3 separate regions of the Homo sapiens genome follow, and regions 1 and 3 are each linked to region 2. Evidence: fine-mapped expression QTL. A gene starts in region 2. Each other region holds a variant in brackets. All regions are shown on one strand. Distances are between the middles of the regions.

Region 1 (10,341 bases), 310 kb after region 2:
CGGCGCCACCTGGAGGTCAGGACCAAGACGAGACAGGCTGTTCAAGTCCCCCAGCTTCGCCGCGGCCGCCACGCCCGACCACCCGGCCCCCGCTGGCGTCCCTAGCTGGCCCCCTACAGGTCTTACCCGCGCTTGTTGCCCCCAGACCCAGGCTTCTCCCCACCTGCACCCACCAGACTGGGAAGGTGGCCAGACTAGACCGAGGGCTGAGGCGGGAGAGACTCCGCCCCCGAGGCCCCGCCCCCTTCTGACAGCAGACGAGGCTGACGTCACTGGATTGGGCAGGTGTCCAGGTGTCCTCTCTCCAGCTGCATCTCCCCTCCTCCACCCAAGGGGAGTCCTCAGTCCCCCAGGCCAGAGTCTCCAATACCCCAAGGTGCCTTCTGTGATCTCCCCGCAGTGCAGCCTCCGGGGCACCCCCCACCCCAATAAAACTCATCTCCGGTTAAAATATCGATTCCAGCGGGCGTGGTGGCTCATGCCTGTAATCCCAACACTTTGGGAGGCCGAAGTGGTCAGATCACCCGAGGTCAAGAGTTCGAGACCAGCCTGGCCAACATGGTGAAACCCCGTCTCTACTAAAAATATAAAAATTAGCCGGGCGTGGTGGTGCACGCCTGTAATCCCAGCTACTCTGGAGGCTGAGGCAGGAGAATCGCTTGAACCCGGGAGGCGGAGGTTGCAGTGAGCCGAGATTGTGCCACTGCACTCCAGCTTGGGCAACAGAGTGAGACCCCATCTCAAAAAAAAAAAAAAAAAAAGGATTCCCAGACCCCACCTCAGTTTCTGACTTTGAGGCCAAAAATCTGGTTTTTGTTTTGTTTTGTCTTGTCTGGTTTGAGACAGGCTCTCGCTCTGTTGCCCAGGCTGGAGTGCAGCGGCATCATCATGGTTCACTGCAGCCTCAAACTCCTGGGCTCAAGCCATCCTCCACCTCAGCCTCCCGAGCAGCTGGGACCACAGGCACATACCACCACCACCAGCAGCTACTTTTCTTTTTTGTCTGTTTGTTTTGTAGAGATGGGGTCTGGCTATGTAGCCCAGGCTGGCCTCAAACTCCTGGGCTCAAGTGATCCTGCCACCTTGGACTCCCAAAGTGCTAAGATTACAGGCATGAGCCACCACACCCAGTTGGAATCTGTGGGTTTTTTTTTTTTTTTCAGACGGAGTCTTGCTCTGCTGCCCAGGCTGGAGTGCAGTGGCTTGATCTCGGCTCACTGCAACCTCTGCCTCCCAGGTTCAAGCGATTCTCCTGCCTCAGCCTCCCAGATAGGTGAGATTACAGGCACCTGCCATCATGCCCAGCTAATTTTTATATTTTTGTAGAGACAGGGTTTCACCATGTTGACCAGGCTGGTCTTGAACTCCTGACCTCAGGTGATCCACCCGCCTTGGCCTCCCAAAGTGCTGAGATTACAGGCGTGAGCCACCGTTCATGGCCTGGAATCTGTGTTTTTTTTTTCTTATTTTATTTTTTGTTTTTGTTTTATTTTTTTGAGACAGAGTCTCGCCCTGTCACCGGGCTGGAGTGCAGTGGTGCAATCTCCACTCACTACAACCTCTACCTCCCGGGTTCAAGCAATTCTCCTGCCTCAGCCTCCCAAGTAGCTGGGACTACAGGTGAGTGCCGCCACGCCTGGCTAATTTTTCGTATTTTTAGTAGAGACGGGGTTTCACTGCGTTAGCCAGAATGGTCTCCATCTCCTGACCTCGTGATCCACCTGCCTCAGCCTCCCAAAGTGCTGGGATTACAGGTGTGAGCCACCATGCCCGGCCTGGAATCTGTGTTTTTAACAAGCTCTCAGGAGATTGTGATATGTCCTAAGCTTCAGAATCCCAACAGTCTACATTCCCATGCAGTGTGGCAGTGATTCCCAAACTTCAGCAGGCGTGTTCAAACAGATTGCTGGCCCCCATCCTAGGGTTTTTGATTCAGTAGGTCTGCGGTGCAGGGCCTGGAGTTTGAATTTCTACTACTCTCTGGGGAATGCGATGCTCTGGTCCAGGACCACACTCTAATAACTATTTCATTTATTTTCCTTTTTTTTTTTTCTTGAGACAGAGCCTTGCTTTTGAGACAGAGATTCAGACAGGTTAATTCACTTGCTGAAGGTCACACAGCCAGGAAAGGCAGAATTTGAACCTGGTCTTTGTGAGCCCAAAGGCTGGGCTGGTTCTGTCTCCGGCAACTGCTAGTTAGCACCTCCCAGGAACTTACCTTGTTTCTGCAGGTTAACTCAACACTCCCTGAAGCCTGAGGAAGTTTGTTATTTTTATTTTTATTTTTTGAAGACAGAGTCTGATTCTATCGCCCAGGCTGGAGTTCAGTGGCGTGATCTCAGCTCACTGCAACCTCTGCCTCCCAGGTTCAAGCAATTCTCCTGTCTCAGCCTCCCGAGTAGCTGGGATGACAGGTGCGCGCCACCATGCCCAGCTAATTTTTTTTTCTTTTTTTGAGATGGAGTCTCACTCTGTCACCCAGACCAGAGTGCAGTGGCAAGATCTCAGCTCACTGCAAGCTCCGCCTCCCAGGTTGACACCATTCTCCTGCCTCAGCCTTCCAAGTAGCTAGGGCTACAGGTGCCGGCTACCACGCCCAGCTAATTTTTTGTATTTTTAGTAGAGACGGGGTTTCACCGTGTTAGCCAGGATGGTCTCGATCTCCTGACCTCGTGATCCTCCCACCTCGGCCTCCCAAAGTGCTGGGATTACAGGCGTGAGCCACCATGCCCAGCCAATTTTTGTATTTTTAGTAGAGGGTTTCGTCATGTTAGCCAGGCTGGTCTCGAACTCCTGACGTCAGGTGATCCACCCACCTCAGCCTCCCAAAGTGCTGGGATTACAGGTGTGAGCCACTGTGCCCAGCCATCAAGTCATCATTTTATTTAAGGAGCTTGAGTCTCAGTGAAGGAAAGTGACTCTCAAAAATCACCAAGTGCCTGCGATCCCAGCCCTTTGGGAGGCAGAAGCAGGAGGATTGACCAGGAGATGGAGGCTATAGTGAGCTATGATTGTGCCACTGTCCTCCTGTCTGGCCAACTGAGCGAGACTCTGTCTCAAAAATAAATAAAAAATAAAAATAAGAGTCGTACAGCAAAGTAGTAGCAATATTGAGACTAGGACCAAGGTCTCTTGACTCCGCATCAAGGGCTCCTCCTACTACTTCCTGCACATGGTATTCTTTATCACTTCCAAAATGACATTCCTAGCTGGGTGCAGTGGTTCACACCTGTAATCCCAGCACTTTGGGAGGCCGAGGTAGGAGGATTGCTTGAGGCCAGGAGTTTGAGACCAGACTGGGCAACATAGCTAGAACCCATCGCCACAAATATTAAAAAAGAATTAGCTGGGCATGGTGGCATACACCTGTAGTTTCAGCTATTCGGGAGGCTGTGGTGGGAGGATCGCTTGAGTCCAGGAGTTGGAGGCTGCAGTGAGCCATGATTGCGCCACTGCCCTCCAGCCTGGGCAACAGAGCCAGACCCTGTCTCTAAAAAACAAAAACCACTGGCCGGGTGCAGTGGCTCACGCCTGTAATCCTAGCACTTCGGGGAGCTGAGACAGGTGGATCATCTGAGGTCAGGAGTGCAAGACCAGCCTGGACAACATGGTGAGACCCTGTCTCTACTAAAAATACAAAAGTTAGCCGGGTGTGGCCAGGCGCGGTGGCTCATGCCTGTAATCCCAGCACTTTGGGAGGCCAAGGCAGGCGGATCACGAGGTCAGGAGATCAAGACGATCCTGGCTAACATGGTGAAACCCCGTTCTCTACTAAAAATACGAAAAAAAATTAGCCGGGCGTGGTGGCATGTACCTGTAATCCCAGCTACTCAGGAGGCTGAGGCAGGAGAATGGTGTGAACCCGGGAGGCGGAGCTTGCCGTCAGCGGAGATCATGCCACTGCACTACAGCCTGGGTGACAGAGTGAGACTCTGTCTCAAAAAAAAAAAAAAAAAAACCAAAAAACAAAAACGGTTACATGGGTGTGGTGGCAAGCACCTGTAATCCCAGCTACTCCAGAGGCTGAGGCAGGAGAACCACTTGAACCCCACGGGCGGAGGTTGCAATGAGCCGAGATCACACCACTGCACTCCAGCCTTGGCGATAGAGTGAGACTCCATCTCAAAAAAACACACAAAAAAACTGTCATCAAGAGGCAGCTTCCTTCTGCCCACCCCTTTCCTTCCTCTCCCACAAGTCTGCCTGTGCCTGCTCAGCCAAGCCTAGACAGGGCTCCAGATCTGGGGAAGGAGAGAGTGATGGGATGTGCCTTGGTTGCTGGCTGAACCCACCTTCCTTAATTTCCCTTCCACTCCCAAGAGCTGAAGAAGCCAAAGACAAACGAGAGCAGTATTCCTTTCCACAAGCCCACAGCGTCAAGCCTGGATGAGCTCCTGGGCCTGTAGCTACTTGCAAGGCTATTTTACCAGTGACCCTCAGAGGCCCAGCTTCGTCCTACTCTCCCCTCCCCTCCTCTCACTGAAACCTCAGGTCCCCAGCGATGAGGAGCTCATCTCTAAAGACTCGGAGGGGCTGATCCCGGATGTTAGACAGCTAGGTACTACTCCAAACCTCAGGACCCATTAAATCTCAGGGCTTCCTGGGACTCAGATCCTGCACCAACACCATTCACCCCCAGAAGGGTTCCTGGCAGATAATAGAGACGTGATGAATAATTGGTGATTGAAAACTCCAGACATGAGCTGCTCTTTATTAGTCTGTTTTGAGGCCCCGCCTGAAAACCTGAAAGCAGGCTTTGACTTTAGGCTTCACTCAGGACTGATTCCCAGTGAAGTCACTTAACTCATGTGTTGAACACCTGCTGTGTAACATGTGCAGAATGAAAGCTACATGACCTTTCTTTTCTCTTTCTTTTTTTTTTTTTTTCTGAGATAGAGTCTCACTCTGTTGCCCAGGCTGGAGTGCACTGGTGCAATCTCACCTCATTGCAACCTCTGCCTCCCGGGTTCAAATTATTCTGTCTCAGCCTCCCAAGTAGCTGGGATTATAGACACATGCCACCACACCCAGCTAATTTTTTGTATTTTTAGTAGAAACGGGGTTTCACCATGTGAAAAAGATGTTTTAAGAGATAAGGTCTTGTTATGTTGCCCAGGCTGGTCTCAAACTCCTGAGCTCAAGCAATCCTCCCGCCTCAGTCTCCCAAGGTGCTGGGATTATAGGCATGAGTCACCGTGCCCGGCCTTGCTGTTGCTTTTGTGAAACAACCCTGCTTTTTCCTGGAGAGCCACCTCTGCACCTTCATGTGGCTTGGCTACTCCGAGAGGGGACCTGAGGCTGCTGGGTCTCCCTTCTTGTTGTCTCCGTTGCCCTCCAACCTCCTTCCAAATTGCCACAGCCTCCCTCTAGGTCCTTATTCCCACGGTGCCAGGCCAAATCCCTCACCCAGCTCCTAGGCTGCAGCCTTCACCCGGCCCTGCCGTGAGCATGGTCCCTGTAGAGCCCCCTGGAGGTGTAGTTTCAGCTCTTGGTGAGGCGCGGGCAGCAGGCAGCGGGGCTGGAGTTCCTTCACAGCACGTGGATGCATCTCCCACAGCCCCCATGTGCGTCTGCAGACGCACAACTCTCCACAGCCAAGCCCATGGCAAAGCCCTTCAGCACCAGAGAGGCAGGGTAGTGGGCTACCCCTGGGAGCTGGCAGTTTCCAGCAAGGCCTCCTTTGCTGAGCCTTGGACAAGTCCCGTAATCCACCCTAAATACCTTTCTTGTAGGATCGCTAAGGACAGCAGCTGACGGGACTGGGTCCTTGGTGAATGGCAGCTGTTACCGTCCTTATAAGGAAAGGTGGAGTTACAAACAGGCATTTTGGCCCCAAGAAGGGGGTGGGACCCAGAGCAGAAACGTGCTGACCATGCTTCCCCCCAAATAGACCCACAGGTGACCCCTACTGGGATTTAGGCCCTCACCTTAGGGGT[C/T]TCTCCCTGACCCACCCAAACTCCTCTCATCCCCTCCCGCCGTCCACAAACACACTCCATACTGACTCAGAACTATCTGATATTTATTTCCCAATATTTTGATACTTGTTTTACAACTGGAATACATGGAATGAAGGGGCTGATATGGGACCCCAGGTAAGAGTGAGGTCAGGACTCTCTAAGGGTCTGGGGTTCCCCCTAGAGGGGACTTTGGGCATCCAGTTTCAGGGACTGAGCCGGGTTGGGTCGGGGGGCAGCATGGCATCGGACGTGGTGCCGTCTGTGCCTCTCCTGCCTGCGGTACAGCCGGCGCAGGTGTTTCCGAACGGCCCACAGCACCAGGTACACCTCCCACAGCAACTCAGCCTCCGGAGTCTTCAAAGGTGACTGCGTCCTCACTTGGGAGCTGACTGAGGCAGAACTCACTGATGACTGTAAGAGAAAGAGAAGATGTGCATGCGTAAATAGCTGGGTCTAGGGAGAAACTGCCGCTAGAACGACCCATAGATAAACAGCAAAGGGCTCCCTGATTCCACCTCTCCCATCAGCCCAACTCATACATCACCTCCTCCAGAAAGCCTTCTCAGGTTGCATCAAATGTTTGTCATTTCTATCCTTTTTTTTTTTTTTAATGAGACGGGGTCTTGCTATGTTGCCCAGGCTGGTCTCGAACTCCTGGGCTCAAGAGATCTTCCTGCCTTGGCTTCCCAAAGTGTTGGGGATTACAGGCGTGAGGCATCACACCTGGCCCATCAGTTCTATTCTTCTTTTTTTTGTTGTTTTGAGATGGAGTCTTGCTCTATCACCCAGGCTGGAGTACAGTGGCATGATCTCAGCTCACTGCATCCTCCACCTCCTGGGTTTAAGCGATTCTTCTGCCTCAGGCTCCTGAGTAGCTGGGATTACAGGTGCTCGCTATCACGCCCAGCTAATTTTTGTAGTTTTAGTAGAGAAGGGGTTTCACCATGTTGGCCAGGCTGGTCTCGAACTCCTGACCTCAAGTGATCAGCCGGCCTCGGCCTCCCAAAGTGCTGGGATTACAGGCGTGAGCCACCATGCCTGGCCTTTTTTTTTTTTTTTTTTTTGAGACAAGGTCTCACTCTGTCACCCAGGCTGGAGTGCAGTGGCATAATCTCAGCTCACTGCAACCTCCACCTCCCAAGTTCAAGTGATGCTCCCACCTCAGCCTCCTGAGTAGCTGGGACTACAGTCGTGCACCACCATGCCCGGCTAACTTTTATATATATATATGTGTGTGTGTGTGTGTGTGTGTGTGTGTGTGTGTGTGTATATATATATATATATTTTTTTTTTTTTTTGTAGAAATGGGGTTTTGCCCAGGCTGGTCTTGAACTCCTGAGCTCAAGTGATCCACCTGCCTCAGCCTCCCAAATGCTGAGATTACAGGCGTGAGTCGCCACGCTCGGCTTAAACTGTTTTTTTGTTTTGTTTTGTTTTGAGATCATTGTAGACTGACTGACCTGCAATTGGAAGAAATCATAGAGATCCTGTGCACCCTTTACTGAGTTCACCTCATAGGAAAATCTTGCAAATCTATACTATTATATCATAGTCAGGATATTGACATTGATCCAATCTACTGATCTTATGTAGATTTCCCCAGTTGTACTTGTACTCACTGGTGTGTGTGTGTGTGTGTGTGTGTGTGTGTGTGTGTGTGTGTGTATAATTTTACCAAGTTTTATCCAGTATGCAGGTTCATGTATCCAACTACCACAGTCAAGGTACAGAACATTTCCATCGGGCAGGAGAAACAAAAAACAAAAACATAAAAACAAAACAAAACAGAAAGCTACAGAACATTTCCATCAGACAGGAGAAAGCAAAAAACAAAAACAAAACAAAAAAAGATACAGAACATTTGCATCATCACAAGTGTCCCTCATGTTGTCCTTTAATAACTACACTCTTCTCCCCCTATCTCTGTGGCCCCTGGAAACCACTGAGCCACTAATATGTTTGCCATTTCTAGACTTTTGTTATTTCAAGAGTGGTAGATAATATAAACGGAATCATTCAGAATATAACCTTTTAGGATTGGTTGTTTCCACTCAGTATAATTTCCTTGAGGCCGGGCCCAGTGGCTCATGCCTATAATCCCAGCACTTTGGGAGGCCAAGGTGGGTGGATCACCTGAAGTCAGGAGTTCCAGACCAGCCTGGCTAACATGGTGAAACCCCATCTCTACTAAAAATACAAAAAATTAGCTGGGTGTGGTGGTGGGCACCTGTGGTCCCATCTAATCGGGAGGCTGAGGCAGGAGAATAGCTTGAAGCTGGGAGGCGGAGGTTGCAGTGAGCCGAGGTCGCACCACTTCATTCCAGCCTGGGCAATGAGAGTGAAACTCCGTCTCAAAACAAAACAAAAAATTTCCCTCAAGATTCACACCCACGTTACTGTGTGTATCAATAGTTTGTCCTTTTTACCTTTTTTTTTTTTTTTTTTTTGAGACGAAGTCTCCCTCTGTCACCCAGGCTGGAGTGCAGTGGCACAATCTTGGCTCACTGCAAGCTCCGCCTCCCGGGTTCACGCCATTCTCCTGCCTCAGCCTCCCGAGTAGCTGGTACTACAGGCGCCTGCCACCACGCCTGGCTAATTTTTTTGTATTTTTTTTTTTAGTAGAGACGGGCTTTCATCCTGTTAGTCAGGATGGTCTTGATCTCCTGACCTCGAGATCCGCCTGCCTCGGCCTCCCAAAGTGCTGGGATTACAGGTGTGAGCCACCGTGCCCGGCCTTTATTTTTTCAGGCAGAGTTTCACTTTTGTTGCCCAGGCTGGAGTGCAGTGGCATGATCTCAGCTCACTGCAACCTCCGCCTCCCAGGTTCAAGCGATTCTCCTGCCTCAGCCTCCCGAGTAGCCCACCACCATGCCCAGATAATTTTTTTGTATTTTTAGTAGATACAGGGTTTCACCATGTTGGCCGGGCTGGTCTCGAACTCCTGATCTCAGGTGATATGCCTGCCTTGGCCTCCCAAAGTGCTGGGATTACAGGCATGAGCCACCACGCCCGGCCCTGTCCTTTCCGTCTTTTTAGAATTTTATTTATTTGTGTGTTTGTTTTGTTTGTTTGCAGATACGGGGTCTCACTATGTTGTCTAGGCTGGCCTCGAAACCCTGGGCTCGAGCGATGCTTCTGCCTGGTGTTTCAAAGTGCTAGGATCACAGGTGTGTCGCTGCTCCTGGCCAGTTTGTCCCTTCTTATTGCTGAGTAGTATTCTGGGGTTTGAAGGTATCACAGTTTAACCATTCACCCACTGAAGGACATGGGTTGATTTTGGCTATTACAAATCAAGCTGCTGTGAACATCCACATTTAGATTTTTTTTTTTTTTTAGATGGAGTCTCGCTCTGTCACCCAGGCTGGAGTACAGTGGCGCTATTTCAGCTCACTGCAAGCTCCGCCTCCCAGGTTCACGCCATTCTCCTGCCTCAGCCTCCCAAGTAGCTGGGACTACAGGCACCCGCCACCACGCCCGACTAATTTTTTGTATTTTTAGTACAGACGGGGTTTCACTGTGTTAGCCAGGATGGTCTTGATCTCCTGACCTTGTGATCCACCTGCCTCGGCCTCCCAAAGTGTTAGGATTACAGGCGTGAGCCACTGCGCCTGGCCTCACATTTAGATTTTTGTGTGAACATAAGATTTTATTTATCTGGGATAAATGCCCAAGAGTACAACTGTTGGGTCATATGATAACTGCGTGGTTAGTTTTATAAGAAATAACCACTCTTGGCCAGGCGCTGTGGCTCACGCCTGTAATCCCAGTACTTTGGGAGTCTGAGGTGGGAGGATCGCCTGAAGTCAAGAGTTCGAGACTAGCATGGTCCAATATGGTGAAACTCTGTCTCTACTAAAAATACAAAAGTTAGTCAGACATGGTGGTGAGTGCCTGTAATCCCAGCTACTTGGGAGGCTGAGGCAGGATAATTGCTTGAACCTGGCAGGCAGAGGTTGCAGTGAACAAGATCATGCCACTGCACTCCAGCCTATGTGAGAGAGTGAGACTCCATCATAAAAAAAAAAAGAGAGAGAGAGAGAGAAATGACCATCCTGTTTTCCAGAGTTGCTGTGCTATCTATTTTCCTTTTTTTTTTTTGAGAGTGTCTCACTGCCACCCAGGTTGGAGTGCAGTGGCACAAATATAGCTCACTGTGGCCTTGACCTCCCAGTGGTCCTCTCACCTTAGCCTCCCAAGTAGCTGGGACTACAGGCATGCATCATGCCTGGCTAATTTTTTTACTTTTGTAGAGATGGGGTCTCCCTGTGTTGCCCAGGCTGGGCTGAACAAGCTTACAATCCTACCCAAATATGAGTGCAGGTGAGCTTTCAAAATCAACATTTGATCATGTCACTCCTCTGCTCAAATGTCTTCAAGGGCTCCC
Region 2 (10,341 bases):
TAAGGTTATCTCTCTTGTTCCCTGAACATTGCTGTTATCCTGTTCTTTTTTCAAGGTGCCCAGATTTCATATTGTTCAAACACACATCCTCTACAAACAATTTGTGTTAACACAATCATCACAGGGTCCTGAGGTGACATACATCCTCCTCAGCTTACCAAAATGACGGGATTAAGAGATTAAAGACAGGCATAGGAAATCACAAGGGTATTGATTGGGGAAGTGATAAGCGTCCATGAAATCTTCACAATTTACATTCAGAGATTGCAGTAAAGACAGGCGTAAGAAATTATAAAAGTATTAATTTGGGGAACTAATAAATGTCCATGAAATCTTCACAATCCACGTTCTTCTGCCATGGCTTCAGCCAATCCCTCCGTTTGGGGTCCCTGACTTCCCACAACAGGCCACGTTGGCCAGGCTGGTCTCAAACTCCTGAGCTAAAAAATTAGCCGGGCGTGGTGGCAGACGCCTGTAGTCCCAACTACTCGGGAGGCTGAGGCAGGAGAATGATGTGAACCCGGGAGGAGGAGTTTGCAGTGAGCTGAGATCACGCCACTGCACTCTAGCCAGCCTGGGCGGGAAAAAAAAAAAAAAAAAAAGAGAGAGACAAACTCAATAGAAAAATGAGAAAAGAGTTGAACTGGGCCGGCATGGTGGCTCATGCCTGTAATCCCAGCACTTTGGGAGGCCGAGGTGGGTAGATCACTTAAGGTCAGGAGTTTGAGACCAGCCTGGCCAACATGGTCAACATGGTGAAACCCCCTTTCTACTAAAAACCCAAAAAAATTAGTCGTGCCTGGTGGTGCGTGCCTGTAATCCCAGCTACTCGGGAGGCTGAGGCAGGAGGATTGCTTGAACCTGGGAGGTGGAGGTTGCAGTGGGCCGAGATCGCACCACCGCTCTCTAGCCTGGGCAACAGAGGAAGACTATCTCAAAAAAAAAATAAATAAATAAGCCAGTTGCAGTGGCTCATGCCTGTAATCGTAGCACTTTGGGAGGCCGAGGCAGGTGGATTGCTCTGAGCTCAGGAGTTCAAGACCAGCCTGGGCAACACGGTGAAACCCCGTCTCTACTAAAAATACAAAAAAAAAAGCCGGGATGGCAACGTGCCCCTGTAGTCCCAGCTACTTGGGAGGCTGAGGCAAGGGAATTGCTTGAATCCAGGAGGCGGAGGTTGCAGTGAGCCAAGAGCGCACCATTGCACTCCAGCCTGGGCAACATAGCAAGACTCTGTCTCAAAAAAAAAAAAAAGTTGAACTGATACTTCACAAAAGATGATATCCCAAAAGCCAAACCTGTCTGAAAATGTGATCAACCTCATTAATATTTAGGTAAATGCAAATAAAAACTACAATGAGAAGCCATCGCATATCCAAAAACTTTACCCTAAAAGTGTGGCAATACTGGCTGGGCATGGTGGCTCAGGCCTGTAATCCCAACACTTTGGGAGGCTGATGCAGGCAGATCACGAGGTCAAGAGATCAAGACTATCCTGGCCAACATGGTGAAACCCATCTCTACTAAAAATACAAAAATTAGCTGGGTGTGGTGGTGCGCTCCTGTAGTCCCAGCTACTCGGGAGGCTGAGGCAGAAGAATTGCTTGAACCCGGGAACCAGGAGGTGGAGGTTGCAGTGAGCTGAGATTGCGCCACTGCACTCCAGCCTGGGCAACAGAACAAGACTGTCTCAAAAAAAAAACAAAAAACAAAAAGTGTGGCAATACCATGTGTTAATGGAGCTGGAGATAACTGGGAACTCTGACACATTGCTAGAGGAGTGTGAGTTGGTCCAACCAGTTTGATTTGCAGACCATAGATAAAAAAGATAGGAAACTCTCTGATTCATTTTATCTGGCAACCTGCTCTTTCTACCAAAAGCAGATAAAGAATATACCAAAAAGAAACTACAGCCCAATCTCATTTATCATAATAGATTTTAAAAATTCTAAATAAAGCAGTAAAACAAATGGGTAGTATAATTTGTTCCAGCAGATTTTATTCCAGAAACACAAAGATGGTTAAATATCAAGAATACTGCCACCATAATTTATTACATCAAAATCTTTTTTTTTTCTTTTGAGACGGAGTTTCATTCTTGTTGCCCAGGTTGGAGTGCAATGGCACAATCTCAGCTCATTGCAACCTTCGCCTCCTGGATTCAAGGATTCTCCTGCCTCAGCCTCCCCAGTAGCTGGGATTACAGGCATGCACCACCACACCCACCTAGTTTTTTTTTTTTTTGTTTGTTTGTTTTGTATTTTTAGTAGTGATGAGGTTTCACCATGTTGGCCAGGCAGGTCTCGAACTCCTGACTTCAGGTGATCCACCCGCCTTGGTCTCCCAAAGTGCTGGGATTACAGGTGTGAGCTACCACGCCCAGCCTTGAAATTGCTGTTTCTAACAAGTCTTAAAAGACACCCAGACTTTAACAATTGTTATTATATTCAGATTTTTTTGTTGCTTTTTGAGACAATCTTGCTCTTTTACCCAGTCTTGAGTGCAGTAGCATGATCATGGCTCACTGCAGCCTCAACCTCCTGGGCTCAAGCGATTCTCCCACCTCAGCCTCCCGGGTAGCTGGGACTACATGTGCAGTATCATGCCTGGTTAATTTTTAAATTTTTAGAGATGGGGTCTTGCTATGTTGCCCAGGCTTCTAGAATCATTCTTCATATTATTTCACTAACACAGCCTCCACCACATTAATATGGCAACAGGTTTAGAAATTATTTAAAACAAAAATTTCTAATGTTTACATATATTGTGTGATGTGTGTGTGTGTGTGTGTGTGTGTGTGTGTGTGTATCATTCCAAGGTACTGTTTCTAATTTTTTCCTGTAGGGAATGAATATTCAGTATTGCAGCTGCATTGGCTAGCTGGGGATTCTATTTACCACCACATTGTCCCGGACTGAATCTGGGGACAAAAAAACCACTTCGGGAACAAATTCTTGTCTTCAACAAAGAGCTGTCTTGAGTAGGCACAAAAGTAGCATTTGAGGGCCGGACGCGGTGGCTCAAGCCTGTAATCCCAGCACTTTGGGAGGCCGAGGCGGGCGGATCACGAGGTCAGGAGTTTGAGACCAGCCTGGCCAATATGGTGAAACCCTATCTCTACTAAAAACACAAAAATAGCCGGGCGTGGTGGTGGGCGCCTGTAATCCCAGCTACTCGCGAGGCTGAGGCAGGAGAATTGCTTGAACACGGGAGGCGGAAGTTGTATTGAGCCAGAGATCGCGCCATTGCACTGCAACCTGGGCGACCGAGTGAGACTCCGACTCAAAAAAAAAAAAAAGTAGCATTTGAGTACCTTTTTTTTCCTTTTCTTTTCTTTTTTTTTTAGAGGAAGGGCACCCAGGCTGGAGTGCAGTGGCACCATAATAGCTCACTGCACTCTGCAACTGCTGAGCTCAAGAGATTCTCCTCCATCAGCCTCCCTAGTAGCTGGAATTACTGGCGTGAGGCACCATGCCCGGCTTATTTTCTTATTTTTTTGTAGAGGTGGTTGGAGCGGGGGGACTGGGGAGGGTCTCGCTATGTTGCTCAGGCTCGTCTCGAACTCTTGCCCTGAAATGATCCGTCCTCGGCCTCGCAAAGCGCTGAGATTACAGGCGTGAGCCACGGCGCCCAGCCTTGAATAGTTTTTCACATGCATTGCACGTTATTTCCTTTTATTCTCTAGTTTTTGGGTCCAGTCTTAAACCTGGGAAGGGATTCATTTGGGGGGGTCACACCAGCGGGCATCCTGGCTCAGGCGGAACTCTGGCTCCAGACAGTGCGCCCAGGACCAAACGGTCAACCCCGGCCTACTCCCGCCCCTCCCAGATCCTCCCCTCCTCGGACGCTCCCGCGTCTTCCTCTCGCTCAGGCACTGAGGGGCGGGGAGATGGGTGTTAAAGAGGGGATATCACCAATCAACGTGCGCCTCCGGGAAACAGCGCTTCGCACTGGCTGGTTGGGTCTGACGACGTGGCCACTGTCCAATCCTCATGCTAGAGGCGGGGCTAAAGGCCAGTGGCGCAAGCAGAAGGAGGAGCGCAGCGGCTGCAAGCACGTGACCGGGGCCTGAAGCCGGAAGCTACCTATCTGGTAGGGAGCTCCCCCAGCACCGAAGACTGCGATGGTGAGTGAGGACGCATGCGCGAGAGGACCCGCCGGGGGTTCAGCGTCTCTGCTCCCCAGTCTGTGTGGTTTCCCCCTGGTGGGCCTGCGCTCCACCCTCACCTCCTATCCGCTCGGGGAGGAAGAGGGGATGGAAATGGGAGGGATGGCGACGAGAATGCTGGGGAGGGGTCTGTGGGAGGGTGTTCTGGGGCTGCGGGTAGTCTGCAGGTCGGGCGGAGACGAAGGGAGGTGAAGAGAGGGTCTGGGGGCAGGGGCCAGTGGGGCAGCAAAGGCCCCTTGGGGTAGCAAAGGTGGGATGTGGAAGGCCAGGGGAGCCCGGGGGCGAGAGTGGGGGCAGATGGAGGCTCGGGAAGATCAGTATTGAGGACCATGTAGGGGGGAGGGGGCCGGGAAGGGACCTGGCTGGGGAATGAGAAAACCTGGGGCCATCGTCAACCCAGAGACTTGGGTTTGCAGGTGAAGGGTATCGGGCCGTCCATCCCTCTAGCATGCTTCTCACGACTTGCATCTTTACCCACTAGACTTCTGCGCTGACCCAGGGGCTGGAGCGAATCCCAGACCAGCTCGGCTACCTGGTACTGAGTGAAGGTGCAGTGCTGGCGGTGCGTTCTGGGAAAGGGAGGGGGTCCCTTAGTGCACACAGCCCGGTAACCCCTTCTAATATTGGCCCTTCTTTTCTCGGCTTTTATCTGGTTTCCTGCCTGGCATCTATTAGGTTGGTACAAAAGTATTTGCAGTTTTTGCAATTACTTTCAGTAATCAGTCTGTGGAATCTTAGTCTCCTAACGGCTGCGATTTATTTATTTATAGTTTTTGAGACTGAGTTTCGTTCTTGTTGCCCAAGCTGGAGTGCAGTGGTGCGACCTCGGCTCACTGCAACCTCCGCCTCCGGGGTTCAAGCGATTCTCCTGCCTCAGCCTCCCGAGTAGCTGGGATTATAGGCACGTGCCACCATGCTCTGCTAATTTTTTGTATTTTTAGTAGAAACGGGGTTTCACCGTGTTAGCCAGGCTGGTCTCAAACTCCTGACCTCAGGTGATCCACCTGCCTCAGCCTCCCAAAGTGCTGGGATTACAGGCGTGAGCCAACATGCCTGGCCTTTATTTGGTATTTCTTAAAAAGGCATTTGTATTTTGTTCCATAGTACTGTATGGTGTTAGGTCTCTAGATTACAGGCGTGAGCCACCACGTCTGGCCTTTATTTGGTATTTCTTAAAGAGGCATTTGTATTTTGTTCCATAGTACTGTATAGTGTTAAGTCTCCAGATGTTTTTGACTTAGGTAGAGACAAAGCTTAAGGTTAAGGGTTGAAAACAATACAGGTGGTAAAGACTATTGAGGGAATCCAGGATATTAAAAATTCAACATGTTATGACAAGGTAACTAACTTTCCGGGAGGTAGGAATTCAGCCCACCTTAAAGGAGAGTATTTACAGTGGGGGAGGACTTATTTGCAGGTGTGTGGCACTAACCTATCTGAACTGATGGTAAGTTTATGCTGAAAAGATTTGGGAAGGTTTGAGGGAAGAGAGGAGGATATGGTCAGGGAGGATGTAATTGTGAAGGATCTTCAAGGCCAGGTTAACACACTTGAACTTATTCTTGAAGGTAATACAGTTTGAAAGGTTTTTTAAAACAGAAACAAGACCCAGTGAGGTGGTTGAGCAATATTGTTGTTAGTGATGTGAAGATGGGCAGAAGGAGGCGTCATTAAGAGATGAGACTGGGCTGGGCGTGGTGGTTCATGCCTGTAATTCTAGCACTTTGGGAGGCCAAGGCGGGCGGATCACGAGGTCAGGAGATCGAGACCATCCTGGCCAACACGGTGAAACCCCGTCTGTACTAAAAATACAAAAACAAAATTAGCCAGGCCTGGTGGCGGGCACTTGTAGTCCCAGCTACTCGGGAAGCTGAGGCAGTAGAATGGCGTGAACCTGGAAGGTGGAGGTTGCAGTTAGCCGAGATCACACCACTGTACTCCAGCCTGGGCGACAGAGCAAGACTCCGTCTCAAAAAAAACAAAAAAAAAAAGAGATGAGACTGGGCAAGTGGTGGTAAGAAGGAGGAGCAAGGAGAGAAGAGTTTTGTTTTTGTTTTTTTTTGTTTTTGTTTTTTGAGACAGAGTCTCGCTCTGTGGCCCAGGCTGGAGTGCAGTGGCATGATCTCAGCTCACTGCAACCTCCGTCTTCCGGGTTCAAGTGATTTTCCTGCCTCAGCCTCCTGATTAGCTAGGATTACAGGTGTGCACCACCATGCCCAGCTAATTTTTGTATTTTTAGTAGAGAGAGGGTTTCACCATGTTGGCCGGGCTGGTCTCGAACTCCTGACCTCATGATTTGCCCGCCTCAGCCTCCCACCCAAAGTGCTGGGATTACAGGCATAAGCCACTGCACCCGGCCTGTTTTTTTGTTTTTGTTTTTGTTTTTTTTGAGACGGAGTCTCACTCTGTCACCCAGGCTGGAGTGCAGTGGTGCAGTCTCCCCTCACTGCAAGCTCCGCCTCCCGGGTTCACGCCATTCTCCTGCCTCAGCCTCCCTAGTAGCTGGGACTACAGGCGCCCGCCACCATGCCCGGCTACTTTTTTGTATTTTTAGTAGAGATGGGGTTTCACCATGTTAGCCAGGATGGTCTGGATCTCCTGACCTCGTGATCCGCCTACCTCGGCCTCCCAAAGTGCTGGGATTACAGGTGTGAGCCACAGCACCCCGTCCTGTTTTTTTGTTTGTTTGTTTTTTTTTAAGATAGAGTCTCGCCGTCACTCAGGCTGGAGTGCAGTGGTAACGATCACATCTCATTGTAGCCTTGAACTCCTGGGCCCAAGCAATCCTCCCGCCTCAGCATCCCAAGTAACTAGAACTACAGGCAAGCACCACCACGCCCAGCCATTAAAAAAAAAAAAAAAATGTGTGGAGACAGGGGCCTTGCTATGTTGCCCAGGCTGGTCTCAAACTCCTGGCCTCCAGCATTCCTCCTGCCTTGGCCTCCCAGAGTGCTGAGATTACAGGCATGAGCTCCTGTGCTTGGCTGGAAGAAGTTATTTTAAAGGAGGAATCAGTATATCTTGCTAATGACTAGAAATAGGTAATAGAGGAAATATTTCTGTAGCCAGAACTCTAAAGCCTGGAAGAGTGATGATGCCTTAAGAAACATGTCCCTGCGTGGTGGCTCACGCCTTTAATCCCAGCACTTTGGGAGGCTGAGGTGGGTGGATCACTTGAGGTTGGGAGTTCGAGAGCACCCTAGCCAACATGGTGAAACCTCATCTCTACAAAAAATTAGCCTGGCATGGAAGCACATGCATGTAATCCCAGCTTCTTGGGAGGTTGAGGCAGGAGAATTGCTTGAACCCAGGAGGCAGAGGTTGCAGTGAGCCAAGATTGCACCACTGTACTCCAGCCTGGGTGATAGAGTGAGACTCTGTCTCAAAAAACAAACAAACAAACAGGAAATCAAAAAAAGAAGTGGATTGGGAAGGAGGTGGATAAGGATAAGGTGAAATTTGATGGCCCAACTTTAGACATTGAGTTTGATATAAAATAGCAGTTAATATATATTGCTAGTTCAGCAAAAGGAACTAAATCTAGTGGAGGCCCATATCAAGGAAGAGGGAAGAGGAAGTTGAGACAGTCACCAGAAAAGAGGAAGCCCAAGCCACTGTCCCATCACTTACTCTAGGGGTCAACAGAGGGAGGTATTCAAGGACAAAGGGAATGTTTATGTTTGAGATTCTGCAAACAGGGCAGCAAGTGTGAAGACAGAAAAAGATGGAGCCATTAACAGGTAAGTGGTGGGCAGGCATTCATTTTGGAGAATGTGGCTTTATCAAATAGGCAGGGACATGGGAGAAATCCAGTTTTATGGGGTTAGAAAAGCATGGTCAATAAAGAGATGGATGGCCAGGCACGGTGGCTCACGTCTGTAATCCCAGCATTTTGGGAGGCTGAGGCGGGCAGATCATTTGAGGTCAAGAGTTTGAGACCAGCTGATTAATATGGTAAAACCCCGTCTCTACTAAAAATATAAAAAATTAGCTAGATGTGGTGGTGCTGGTACGTGCCTGTAATCTCAGCTATTTGGGAGGCTGAGGCAGGAGAATCACTTGAACCCGAGAGGCCGAGATTGCACCACTGCACTACAGCCTGGGTGACAGAACGAGATTCCGTCTCAAAAAAGAAAAAAAAAAAAAAGATGGATAAGTTACTGCTCATCCGGGGAAGGCCAGTATTATGGGAAACAGGATGGCATCCGGAGGGTGACAACATTATAGGGGGAGATTTCAGGTTGTTTTTTTCCAAAGCTGAGGGTACTGGCAAGCCAAGGGGGAGAGGGTCTAAGTGTGAGAACCAAGGGGACTGTGCCTGGAATTCCTTCCTGAGCCTGTGCCGTAATGCCCGCCCCTCTCCCTCCTCCGTCTGCATGCAGTCATCTGGGGACCTGGAGAATGATGAGCAGGCAGCCAGTGCCATCTCTGAGCTGGTCAGCACAGCCTGCGGTTTCCGGCTGCACCGCGGCATGAATGTGCCCTTCAAGCGCCTGTCTGGTGAGCCCCTGCCCCTGCCCTTGGTGGTGGTACTGGGAGCGGGGGGCTACTTCCAGGGGCTTCTCGGCTTCTCTTCTTCCAGCCTCCTACCATCTCCTGGGGTCTCTGGTCTGGCCACTTTCCTCCCTTTGGGACTCCCTGGTATCAGAATTGTGAATGAGAAGGCAAGAGAAAGGAGATCTAGCAGAGGCCACTCATCTTCAAATCTCTGAGCCTGGAACTATAGAACTTCTTTGGCTTTGATCCCAGCCAATGTGCGTGTGGCCCCGCCCCATGGAGTCTGTTGCACCCACTAACTCTGTGCTCCCTTCCCTCTCCTGGGGCGGGGGAAGGTGTGTCTCTCCTCCAGTGGTCTTTGGAGAACACACACTGCTGGTGACGGTGTCAGGACAGAGGGTGTTTGTGGTGAAGAGGCAGAACCGAGGTCGGGAGCCCATTGATGTCTGAGCCTGCCGGAGGGCGAGGGTCGGAGAAGCGGATTGGGTCCTGGGCCTCTGTGATGAGGCAGGCACACCTGTCGGTCTTGGCTTGCTGCTAGAACTAGGGCCTTCTGCTCGCCCACCTCCCACCCCTACCTGGACGGGCCCAGGCTTGGGGACTCTGAGCTGTGTTAAGGAGAACAAGGGCAAGGAGACCTCCCTTTGTGCTCCCTCACTCCCTAATAAACATGAGTCTGATGTTCTCCAGCCCAGGGACATGTGTGTTTAGTGTTGGAATGGTTACACCCCATGTCTGTCTTCCACCTTCTGGGGAGAAAGTCATGCACCTTAGCCCAAGTTGGGTGCGGCAGGGCCACCTCTGTGTGCTATAAAACTGGGAAGCAGAAAAAGCTGGAGGGGAAGGGAGTCACCCTGAGCCCTGGCGACCTCTGCTCTTCCCATCAGTACACAAACTAGTCATCCTTCTCCCTCCTGAACAGGCATTTAATAGTCTTATTTCAGTTGGAAGCAATAGTTGGAAAATAAGTTACAGGAACAGACCAAAAAAAAAAAAATTAAAGTGCTTCAGGCTGCAAACGTAAACATAAGGGGCAGGAGGCTACCTGGCCCTGTCCCCAACCCCTGAGACAGGAAGGTCACTGTCAGGGGCCCTTAGCCATCACCACCCTCTAATCTCAGCCCTGCGGGAGGGAGGGAGGGAATGTCAGAGGTGGGAAAGAACTCAACGGGAATGAGGAAGAGACTTTGTAAACTCAGAACCAGGGTAAAGGGCCGGGGACAAGGGAGCTCTGGGAACCCTTGCCCTGGCCTAGGGGTGGGGCCAGCCCCCCCCACAGGAACTCGGGGAATACTGGTGGCTTAGTCCCAGCCATGCCCGCCCACTTCACAGCTTCTTCCCCCATCCCTCATCAGCAGACACAAGACAGGCAGCTCTGCCAGGCCTCTTCACCCCCGTCTGGGAGGCATCCCAGGGGAGGCACAGCCCGGGAGCAGGGATCCCCTCTGGGGGCGTTGGGTCTCTGGAGTGTAAGAGGGAACAGAGCTGGCACGGTGCTACTTGACGGGTTCCACCACCAGGACCTTGCACTCGCGCTTGGCAATCTTGTCCAGAGACAACACAGCCTTGTCCGGGGGCAGGTAGAGGGGGCGGCCAACAGGAGAGGCCACAGGGGGCGTGATGGCTCTGCGCTCCATCACACTGCCCGACCTGGGGGAAGGCAGAGGCTGTGGGCG
Region 3 (10,341 bases), 90 kb after region 2:
CCAAACCATATCACCAGGCAAAGGGCAAGTATCACTCTCTCAAATATGCAAATGGAAAAGGGATCTTTGAGTGGACAGTGTTGCAGGGGATGGGGGTGGCTGGTGTATCCATGGGTCGCCCTCCTCCCTGGCCTCCTCTCCTGCCACCTGCCCTGCAGCCCCCTCATCTACAGAACCTCTCCAGCTCCTTTTTAAAACTTATTCCTGAAAATTTTCACAAGGATATGGAGCCACTGGAACTCTCTTATGCTGCTGGTGGGAGTACAAAATGGCCCAGCCCTTCAAACATTCATTTGGCAGTTTCTTTCTTCTTTTTAGAGATAGGGTCTTGCTCTGTCACCCAGTCTGGCGTGCAGTGATGCAATCACAGCTCATGGAGGCCTTGAATGCCTGGGCTCAAGCAATTCCCCTGCCTCAGTCTCCTGAGTAGCTGGAACTACAGGCACACAATACCATGTCCAGCTAAATTTTTTTTTTTTTTTTTGAGACAGAGTCTCTCACCCTGTCACCCAGGCTAGAGTGCAGTGGCATCTCAGCTCACTGCAACCTCCACCTCCCAGGTTCAAGTGATTCTCCTGCCTCAGCTTCCCCAGTAGCTGGGCTTACAGGCGCCCGCCACCACATCTGGCTAATTTTTGTATTTTTAGTGAAGACAAGGTTTCTCCATGTTGGCCAGGCTGGTCTCGAACTCCTGACTTCAGGTGATCCACCCGTCTCAGCATCCCAAAGTGCTGGGATTATAGGCGTGAGCCACCGTGCCCAGACAGTCCAGCTAGTTTTTAAAGTTGTTTTTGTAGAGATGAGGTCTTGCTATGTTGTCTAGGCTGGTCTTGAACTCTTGTCCTTAAGCGATCCTCCCTCTTTGGCTTTCCAAAGTGCTGGGATTACAGGCGTGAGCCACTGCACCCAGCTGGCAATTTCTTATAAAGTTCAGCACACATTGACCACCCAGCCTCAGCTATCCTGCTCCTGGGTATTCATCCACGAGAAGTGAAAACAGGTGCCCGCACAAAGACTTAGATGCGAATACATATTGCCTGTTTGTATTTGCTCTAAATTGGAAACAACCCAAATGTCCTTCCTTCAACTGGAAAGAGGATAAACTAAGGCACATCCACATGAGGAAATACGGGTCAGCAATTAAAAGGAATAAACTACCGATTCATGCATTAACACGGGTAGATCTAAAGTGCATTTTGCTAAGTTAAACAGCCAAGCTCAAAAGATTCTATACTGTATGTTTCTATTCATACAACATTCTGGAAGAGGCCAAACTATAGGGACAAATGATTAGCAGTTATCAGGGGACGGGTAGACACTGACTAGAGAGGGGCACTGGGAAATTCTGGGGGGATGGGCCTCTTGAGTGTGGCGGTGGTTACAAGATCATATAAATTCACATAAATTTAGGCCGGGCACGGTGACTCACGCCTGTAATCCCAGCACTTTGAGAGGCAGAGGTGGGAGGATCACCTGAGGTCAGGAGTTTGAGACCACTTGGCCAACATGGTGAAACCCTGTCTCTACAAAAAAATGCAAAAATTAGCCAGGCGTGGCAGTGGGCACCTGTAATCCCAACTACTGGGGAGGCAGAGGCAGAAGACTCGCTTGAACCCAGGAGGCGGAGGTTGCAATTAGCCAAGATCACGCCACTACACTCCAGCCTGGGTGATTAGATTCAGACTCCATCTCAAAAAAACCTCACAAGATCATATAAATTTGTCAAAACCCAAAGAACTATCTGCTAAAAAGGGGTGAATTTGTGAATTACGCTGTATGTAAATCATACCTTGATAAACTTGAATGTAAAGAAAATGCTTGGTCTGCTGCGGTGGCTCACGCCTGTAATCCCAGCATTTTGGGAGGCTGAGGTGGGCGGATCACTCGAGGTCAAGAGTTTGAGACCAGCCTGGCCAACATGGCAAAACCCCATTTCTACTAAAAATATAAAAATTAGCCCGGCGTGGTGGTGGGCGTCTGTAATCCCAGCCACTTGGAAGGCTGAGGCAGGAGAATTATTTGAACCTGGGAGGTTGCTGTGAGCTGAGATCGTGCCACTGCACTAGAGCCTAGGCAACAGAGCCACTCCATCTCGGGGAAAAAAAAAAAAAAAAATCCTGTGCTAGGGTCATCCATGAGGTGGCCTCTCTCCCCCTGGGAGGGGCGTAACGCATTCTGCTGGAACAACCACCCACGCTCATCAATTTCCCTCCGGCTCTTCAGTTTTCTAATTACGTCTCTGTCCCTGCCTGTCCCATATCCAATTTGCAAGTATTGCCTGGATACGTGAAATCTATAATTGCTTTGAGAACAACAGCAAATTATCACCACAGTAAGTGGCAATCACTGGTCAGGCCTGGACCCTTCCTAGGGACCCCCATGAACTCAGAAAGAGCCCTGGACTCCCACAGTCACCAGACTGCCATGAGCTGGTACTCCCTGGGTGGGGTGGGGCTGCCCAGCTGCCCGAGAGCCCCGGGGAGGCAAACAGACGCGGCCCTTGCTCCCGGCGCCCTCGGCTCTGAGGGACACTCCAGAAATAGACCGCACAAATTATTCCGGAAGGCATAAACACCAGCAGAAGGCAACAGCGGCCTGTGTGTAAACGGAGTATAAATATGTTGTTGAAGTGACCTGTCCCCAGGGGCTGAGCAATTCTGTGGCTCTGCCAGCTAGGGGACATCTCAGAATGTGCACCTCGGCACGGGTGGGCTTCGGGGAGGGCAGATCAGCCGGAGGCACCTGCTGCCGTCGCTCTGGTCACTACCCTCAGGAGTCGGCCCCCAGACTCCTCCCTCTCCTTGACCTCCTTGTTGTTGTTTTTTTTTTTTTTTTTTTTTTTTTGAGATGGAGTCTCGCTCTGTCACCCAGGCTGGAGTGCAGTGGCGCAATCTCGGCTCACTGCAAGCTCCGCCTCCTGGGTTCACGCCATTCTCCTGCCTCAGCCTCCAGAGTAGCTGAGACTACAGGCGCCCACCACCACGCCCGACTAATTTTTTGTATTTTTAGTAGAGACAGGGTTTCATCGTGTTAGCCAGGGTGGTCATAAACTCCTGACCTCATGATCCACCCGGCTCCGCCTCCCAAAGTGCTGGGATTACAGGCATGAGCCACCGCACCCGGCCTTTTTTTTTTTTTTTCTTTTTTGAGACAGGCTCTTGCTCTGTTGCCCAGGCTGGAGTGCAGTGGCATGATCTTGGCTCACTGTGGCCTTGACCTCCTGGGCTCAAGCAATCCTCCTAGCTCAGCCTCCCAACTAGCTTGGACTACAGGCGTGCATTACCCATGCCCAGCCGGCTAATTTTTTATTTTTTGTAGAGACAGGGTCTCACTACGTTGTCCCGACTGGTCTTGCACTTCTGAGCTCAAGTGATCCTTCTGCCTTGGCCTCCCAAAGTGCTGGGATTATAGGAGTGAGTCACTGCGCCCAGCCCACACCACTTCTTAATTCAAGCTACAGGTCCCCCCTTTGCCTTTGGATTACATCTGCTGCATTTCTTGTCTTATCAAGCTTAACCTTCCTATCTTTGCTTCTCGAAGTCATCTCCCTATTGCTGGGCAGTTGGCCATTCCCCAGTCCAAGCACAGCACCCCCTTGCGGGCCATCCTTAGCCTCCCAAGTACCCGGGATTACAGGTGCACACCACCACACCCAGCTAATTTTTTAAATTTTTATAGAGATGGGATCTTGCTATGTTGCCCAGGTGGGTCTTGAACTCCTGGCCTCAAGTGATCCTCCCACCTCCACCTCCCAAAGTGCTGGGATTATGGGTGTGAGCCACTCCACACAGCCCCATGTCTTCTTTACTCGAAGGTCACTCTGAGATCCGTTTTTGCCTCTCCACCACTCCCCACAAAGCAAACTCAAGACTGGACTACCCTTCTGTCTTGTCTCCCTCTTCCACTCCTGGCCTCAACGCACCTGCCTCCACAGTCTCATGCCTCCAACAGTGACGAATGTTCTTTCTTTTTTATTTGAGATGAAGTTTCACGCTTGTTGCCCAGGCTGGAGTGCAGTGGTGCCACATCTTGGCTCACTGCAACCTCTGCCTCTGGGGTTCAAGCGATTCTCCAGCCTCAGCCTCCCAGGTAGCTGGGATTACAGGCGCCCGCCACCACATCCAGCTAATTTTTTGGAGTTTTTAGTAGAGACAGGGTTTCACCATGTTGGCCAGGCTGGTCTCAAACTCCTGACCTCAGAAGATCCACCCGCCTCAGCCTCCCAAAGTGCTGGGATTACAGGCATGACCCACCTCGCCCAGCCTAAATGTTCTTTCATCTACCCAGCATAGCCTCCCAACTTTGTTGGCTGAAGATTTCATGTTCATCCTTTAAGACCCAGTTCAAACATCTCCTCTGGGGTAAAACCTTTCCTGGCCAGAAATGGTGGCTCATACCTGTAATCCCAGAACTTTGGGAGGTGGAGGTGAATGGATCTCTTGAGGTTGGGAGTTCAAGACCAGTCTGGCCAACATGGTGAAACCCTGCCTCTACTAAAAAT[TA/T]AAAAAAAAAAAACAAAAACCCTGCCTGATCAACACCAGCCACTTCCTTTCCCTCATCTCCCATCATAGAGGTTGTCCTCCTTTGACAGCCTACAGCCCCACACTATGTCTATGAGATGACTTTCAGGCCACTGTGGACAACTGGGCTGGTGGTGCATCACAGCCCTAGGATACAATTCATCTCACAGTCTATGTGAATTATGCCCTTAGAGTTGTGCAGCGCACAACCCATGCAACTGCATGTGACAGTGCCGAGTGCTTCCCACAATCTATTACAAATCATACTTTAAGGGTCTACTTCCCTCAGTAGACCACAGCGCTCAGAAGCAAGGACAGAGGGTCCTCCGTACACACACCTTGTATCTGACACTGGCTGGACATGGAATCAACACTCAAGGATTGCTGAGCGAAAGGATGGCCTGTGGCCACACACTTGCCTTCAAAATCAAAGAAGCCTCAATGAGAAAAAACCCTGTCTGCCCTCATGTGGCATCATCTTGACTTAACCCTCCTCTTGGAGAAGCTAAGGTCTCCAGTTCTAATTCTCTCTCCGCCTTTTCTAATGAGTCATGGCCAGGTGCACACCCCAGATGCCAGGCCCCCGGGGTTTGTGGCCTCTCTGTACTCTGCCTACAAAGAGCTGGAAAGAGGAGCAAATGCCAGAAAGTACCCAGTATGGGTGCTAAGTGCTGTTAAAAAACTCCAGGCGGGAGGCCGGGCGCGGTGGCTCACATCTGTAATCTCAGCACTTCTGGAGGCCAAGGCAGGGGGATCACTTGAGCCTAGGAGTTTGAGACCAGCCTGGGCAACATGGTAAGACTCCATCTCTACAAAAAAATTTAAAAATTACCTGAGCATGGTGGTGTGCCCCTGTAGTCTCAGCTACTCAGGAGGTGGAGGTGGGAGGATCACTTGGGCCTGGGAGGCGGAGGCTGCAGTGAGCCATGATTGCACCACTGCACTCCAGCCTGGGTGACACAGTGAGATCCTGTCTTAAAAAATAAAATAAAAGATGCAGGCTTGATTCCTGCAGGGTCACCATACTCTGTGTCAGCCAGACTCTGCCAAGGTCACCTGCTAGCTTGCCTGGGAACAAGCCAGGACCTTTGGAATTAATAGCCTGGCCTGCTGGGTGCAGTGGCTCATGCCTGTAATCCCAGCACTTTGGGAGGCAGAGGCAGGTGGCTCACCTGAGGTCAGGAGTTCGAGACCAGTCTGGCCAACATGGTGAAACCCCATCTCTACCTCTACTAAAAATACAAAAAATTAGCCAGGCGTGGTGGCGCGCACCTGTAGTCCCAGCTACTCGGGAGGCTGACGCAGAATTGCTTGAACCGGGGAGGTGGAGATTGCAGTGAGCCGAGATCATGCCACTGCACTGCAGACTGGGTAACAGAGCGAGACTCCATCTCAAAAACAAACAAAAAAGAGCCTGGCCAGCGGGGTTTTGAAACAAGCCCAGAGCCTTCACTGCTCAAGTGACCCACCCACCCAAAAAAGAGAGGCTCTGCAAACAGGCCCCAAGACAGGCGTCTTGGATGTTATAGGCCCTGTTTACAAAACATTCTCGGGCCTTACTTAAAGCAGGTCCTTTCTCAGCCCACTTGGGATTACAGCACCAGCCTGGAAGGACAGGGGTGTTTCTTTCAAAGTGTGGCCCATTCTGTCTGGAATGAGGGAGGTTTGGCCACATCTCCTGCAGCCTATCCAAGTGAGGGAATGAAGGGATCAGGGCCTCACCTGCTTCCGGAGACTGCCCACCCCTGCCCCTGCCAGCCAACTTCTGGCTGCCTCCCTGCTGATGTTTTTCTGATGTGGCTAACAGTAGCATTCATTCATTCATTCATTCCTTTAGAGACAGTGTCTTGCTCTGTCACCCAGGCTGGAGTGCACTGGCATGATCATAGTTCACTGCAGCCTCCAACTCCTGGGCTCAAGTGGTCCTCCCACCTCAGCCTCCTGAGTAGCTGGGACTATAGATGCACATCACCATGGCTGGCTAATTTTTAAATGTTTGTGGAGACGGGGTCTTGCTATGTTGCCCAGGCTGGTCTCAAATTCCTGACCTCAAGCGATCCTCCCAAGCCTCGGCCTCCCAAAGTACTGGGATTACAGGTGTAAGCCAGTGCACCCGGCTGACAGGGGCCTTTTAAAACACGCAGTGAGCGGCCGGGCGCGGTGGCTCATGCCTGTAATCCCAGCACTTTGGAAGGCCAAGGCAGGCGGATCACAAGGTCAAGAGATCAAGACCATCCGGGACAACAAGGTGAAACCCCGTCTCTACTAAAAATACAAAAATTAGCTGGGCATGGTGGTGTGCGCCTGCTACTCAGGAGGCTGAGTGCCCAGCTACTCAGGAGGCTGGGGCGGGAGAATCACTTGAATCTGGGAGGCAGGGGTTGCAGTGAGCCAAGATCACGCCAGCCACTGCACTCCAGCTTGGAGACAGAGCAAGATTCCATCTCAAAAAAAAAAAAAAAAAAAAAAAGGCAGTGAGTGATAGAAGTGTTTCGGGGCCACAGTTCATGGAGCTTTTCTTCCCAGAGGAAAATCGGGGGGAGGGTGAATGCCCGGCTTTGTTCTGCTAACCAGCTGCAGCTTTTTCATCTGTTTCTCCTGGGTTTTCAATGGGTCTCTCGTGTTATTTACATTTCATTTCTCCTGTCTTTAGCAACTAGAAGCTGCCCTTTCAAGTTTTACTTAGAAAAAAGCCCTTAATTGGTTCTGCAACTGGAAGGGCGATCCTGAACAGGAGTTATTTTGCCTTAAGATAGAAAATAAGGCCGGGTGCGGTGGCTCATGCTTGTAATCCCAGCCCTTGGGGAGGCCGAGGTGAGTGGATCACGAGGTCAGGAGATCGAGACCACCCTGGCTAACACGGTGAAACCGTGTCTCTACTGAAAAAAAAAATACAAAAAATTAGCTGGGCGCGGTGGCGGGTGCCTGTAGTCCCAGCTACTCGGGAGGCTGAGGCAGGAGAATGGCGTGAGCACGGGAGGTGGAGCTTGCAGTGAGCTGAGATCGCGCCACTGCACTCCAGCCTGGGCGACAGAGTGAGACTCCATCTCAAAAAAAGAAAAAAAAAGATAGAAAATAAAATGTGCTTGTGTCACGGGCGACCAGGCTGAATCCAATCAGACAGCGTGGGTGATGGTGTTTGGCAAATTCCAGGGTGATTATGGAGAGGCAGGGCTACCAAAGGGGATGGATAGGGCAGAAGAAATCACAAAGATCTGGGGAAAGCCCCAGGAACCCAGGCTCCCCCCAAGGAGATCTCAGTCCTTGTAGACAAGAGTATACCTTCTGCTTGTCAGGTCTTGGTGCAAAATGATCACTGATTTTGGATCTCCCCAATTCTCACGGTCCCCAGTCCAACTTCCTTTCACCCCTACCAGCCTATCACCTCCCCAGCCATGGCGATATCCATTATAGTACTGAGATTAATCACTTCCATGTCTGTCTGCCTTTTTTTTTTTTTTTTTTTTTTGAGATGGAGTCTCACTCTGTTGCCCAGGCTGGAGTGCAGTGGTGCGATCTCGGCTCACTGCAACTTCTGCCTCCCATGTTCAAGTGATTCTCCTGCCTCAGCTCCCCGAGTAGCCGGGATTACAGGTGTGTGCCACCATGCCCCGCTAATTTTTGCATTTTTAGTAGAGATGGGGTTTCGCCATGTTGGCCAGGCTGGTCTCCAACTCCTGACCTCAGGTGATCCACCCACCTCAGCCTCCCAAAGTGCTGGGATTACAGGTGTGAGCCACCGTGCCCCGCCCCATTTCTGTCTTTGCGAGCAAGAGACAAGGCTGCATCTCCTCCTCCAGGGCCGCCATGCCCAGCACAGGGCTTGGTACGAGGTCTGTAATCAGTGTGACCTTAATGAATGTGCTGTAGAATGATTCCCATTTCACAGACGGGAAAACCGAAGCTTAGTTGGGTTAAAGGAGTTAGCTGCCTGGGGTCTGCCGAGCCGGGGCTGAGCTGCCTGTACGGGTTGGGGACTTCCTGAAGGCAGGGGGGACTTGTAGCATACGCCCCATGACTCAGCGTTTCCATTCTGAGACATGCACCCTTTACAGATACGTAACGGGAGACACAGACAAGAGGATCCGTGACAGCCTGTTCTCAGTAACAAAAACCTGGCCACAGCCCAGATGCCCATCAGCAGGAGAGGACATGAAGAATGGCAGAATATTACCCAGCAGGCAACATGAACCATCCACAGTGTTAAGCAAAGAGATAAACAAGTATCAGCAATGTCACAGCACTGTGGGTTGAAAAACAAGTCCCCAGACATTGTGTATGGCAGGGTACACTTTTTACAGAGTTACAACTACTTATGATTTAAAAAAAAAACAAAAACACCTGGCCAGGCACAGTGGTTCATGCCTGTAATCCCAGCACTTTGGGGAGGCCAAGGCAAGCAGATCACTTGAGGTCAGGAGTTCGAGGCCAGCCTGGCCAACATGGTGAAAACCCATCTCTACTAAAAATACAAAAATTAGCCTGGCGTAGTGGCACATGCCTGTAATCCTAGCTACCTGGGGGACTGAAGCACGAGAATCGCTTGAACCTGGGAGTTCGAGGCTGCAGTGTAGATCACACCACTGCACTCCGGACTAGTGAGACTCTGTCTCAAAAAAAAAAAAAGGCAATGCTTTGGAGTTGGCTGTTCGATCCTGTGGTCTTGGGCATATTTACACAGCTCCTGAGCCTGTTCCCCAAACTTCCAAGAGGGGTACATACTGTCTGCCTTCAGGAACCAGGGTGGGGAATCAATGTCCCTTTGTAGATAAAATCACCAGGTGACCAGCCTGGGCAACACAGTGAGACCCTGCCTCTACCAAAAAAAAAATCTAAAAAAAAATATTAACAGGGCCTGGTAGCATGCACCTGTAGTCCCAGCTACTCAGGAGGCTGAGGAAGGAGGATTGCTCAAGCCCAGGAGGTCGAGGCTGCAGTGATGAGCTGTGATTGCACCACTGCACTTCGGCCTAGGTGACAGCGTAAGACCTTGTCTCAAAAAATAAAAAATAAAATTAAAAAAGCACCAGGCGGCCGGGCGCGGTGGCTCATGCCTGTAATCCCAGCACTTTGGGAGGCCGAGGGGATGGTTCACCTGAGGTCAGGAGTTTGAGACCAACCTGGCCAACATGGTAAAACCCCGTCTCTACTAAAAATACAAAAAAAAATTAGCCGGGCGTGGTGGCAGGCACCTGTAATCCCAGCTACTCAGGAGGCTGAGGTGGGAGAATTGCTTGAATCTGGGAGGCGGAGGTTGCAGTGAGCCGAGATCGCGCCACTGCACTCCAGCCTGGGTGACAGAGCGAGATTCTGTCTCCAAAAAAAAAAAAAGCACCAGGCATGCTGTGGCTGCTTTCATAAACAGCATCCATTTCTGGTTTTGGTTAATGGCACGACACTTCCCTGGTCTTTTCCCGACATAACCAGAAGCACATTCAACCTTCTGTGTTCCTTACACCAGAGCTGAGAAAGCACACCGAGACACACAATCTCTGACCTTTCCCAGCATGCAGACAGTTTGTGTCAACATGCTGAAGACCACAATGGAAATATGTGACCCTAAAGTAACCTGCAGTCCTGCCCTGACACTATGAATTGGGACGCAACATTCTCTGGAGGCCTTGCTATTAAAGGACTTTGGGGACACGCTGGGGCATGGGCTGGAGTTGTTGTCCTGTCACATGGTAACTCTGGGAGTGGCCCTGGTTCCCGGTCACACTCATCTCCTGCGGCCACCACCACTCCAACCCTACCGTGTACTGCTGGCCTGTGGGGCTGGGTGTTCCTGGGGGCCCCTCGGCTGGCCCCATCCTTAGATGAC

Which allele goes with the higher level. Positions count from the first base shown, and alleles are read on the strand shown. Sizes are in standard deviations (SD) of each study's normalised expression. Not every link is listed here.
For the expression in lymphoblastoid cells of the gene that starts at base 4,069 in region 2, TA is the high allele of the variant in region 3 and T is the other (small effect, 0.36 SD a copy in GEUVADIS).

The links.
Region 1: its variant is fine-mapped to the expression of LAMTOR4 in whole blood (TOPMed, PIP above 0.99). The same link has a PIP of 0.9 or more in subcutaneous fat.
Region 3: its variant is fine-mapped to the expression of LAMTOR4 in lymphoblastoid cells (GEUVADIS, PIP 0.95).

What each region holds. Positions count from the first base shown.
Region 1 is chr7:100,450,618-100,460,958 of GRCh38, forward strand. TSC22D4-C7ORF61 (TSC22D4-C7orf61 readthrough) reads right to left here. Exons shown (of 6, transcript NM_001395846.1): 6 at 6,003-6,368. The coding sequence ends at 6,135. SPACDR (sperm acrosome developmental regulator) reads right to left here. Exons shown (of 3, transcript NM_001004323.3): 3 at 6,003-6,368. The coding sequence ends at 6,135. Among named protein-coding and RNA genes, the nearest start is that of SPACDR, 8.5 kb to the right of the region's middle. RefSeq lists silencers at 173-272, 6,485-6,647. The variant C/T (reference allele first, on the strand shown) is at 5,937.
Region 2 is chr7:100,144,850-100,155,190 of GRCh38, forward strand. It overlaps LAMTOR4 (late endosomal/lysosomal adaptor, MAPK and MTOR activator 4), which reads left to right and starts at 4,069. Exons shown (of 4, transcript NM_001008395.4): 1 at 4,069-4,126; 2 at 4,650-4,730; 3 at 8,551-8,668; 4 at 9,018-9,354. The coding sequence starts at 4,124. The coding sequence ends at 9,115. It overlaps TRAPPC14 (trafficking protein particle complex subunit 14), which reads right to left. Exons shown (of 11, transcript NM_018275.5): 11 at 9,574-10,315. The coding sequence ends at 10,162. RefSeq lists enhancers at 3,072-3,684, 3,709-3,768, 4,039-4,148, 4,297-4,909 and silencers at 4,449-4,538, 4,549-4,638.
Region 3 is chr7:100,235,070-100,245,410 of GRCh38, forward strand. It overlaps the pseudogene CASTOR3P. Among named protein-coding and RNA genes, the nearest start is that of PVRIG, 20 kb to the left of the region's middle. RefSeq lists an enhancer at 8,435-8,834. The variant TA/T (reference allele first, on the strand shown) is at 4,502.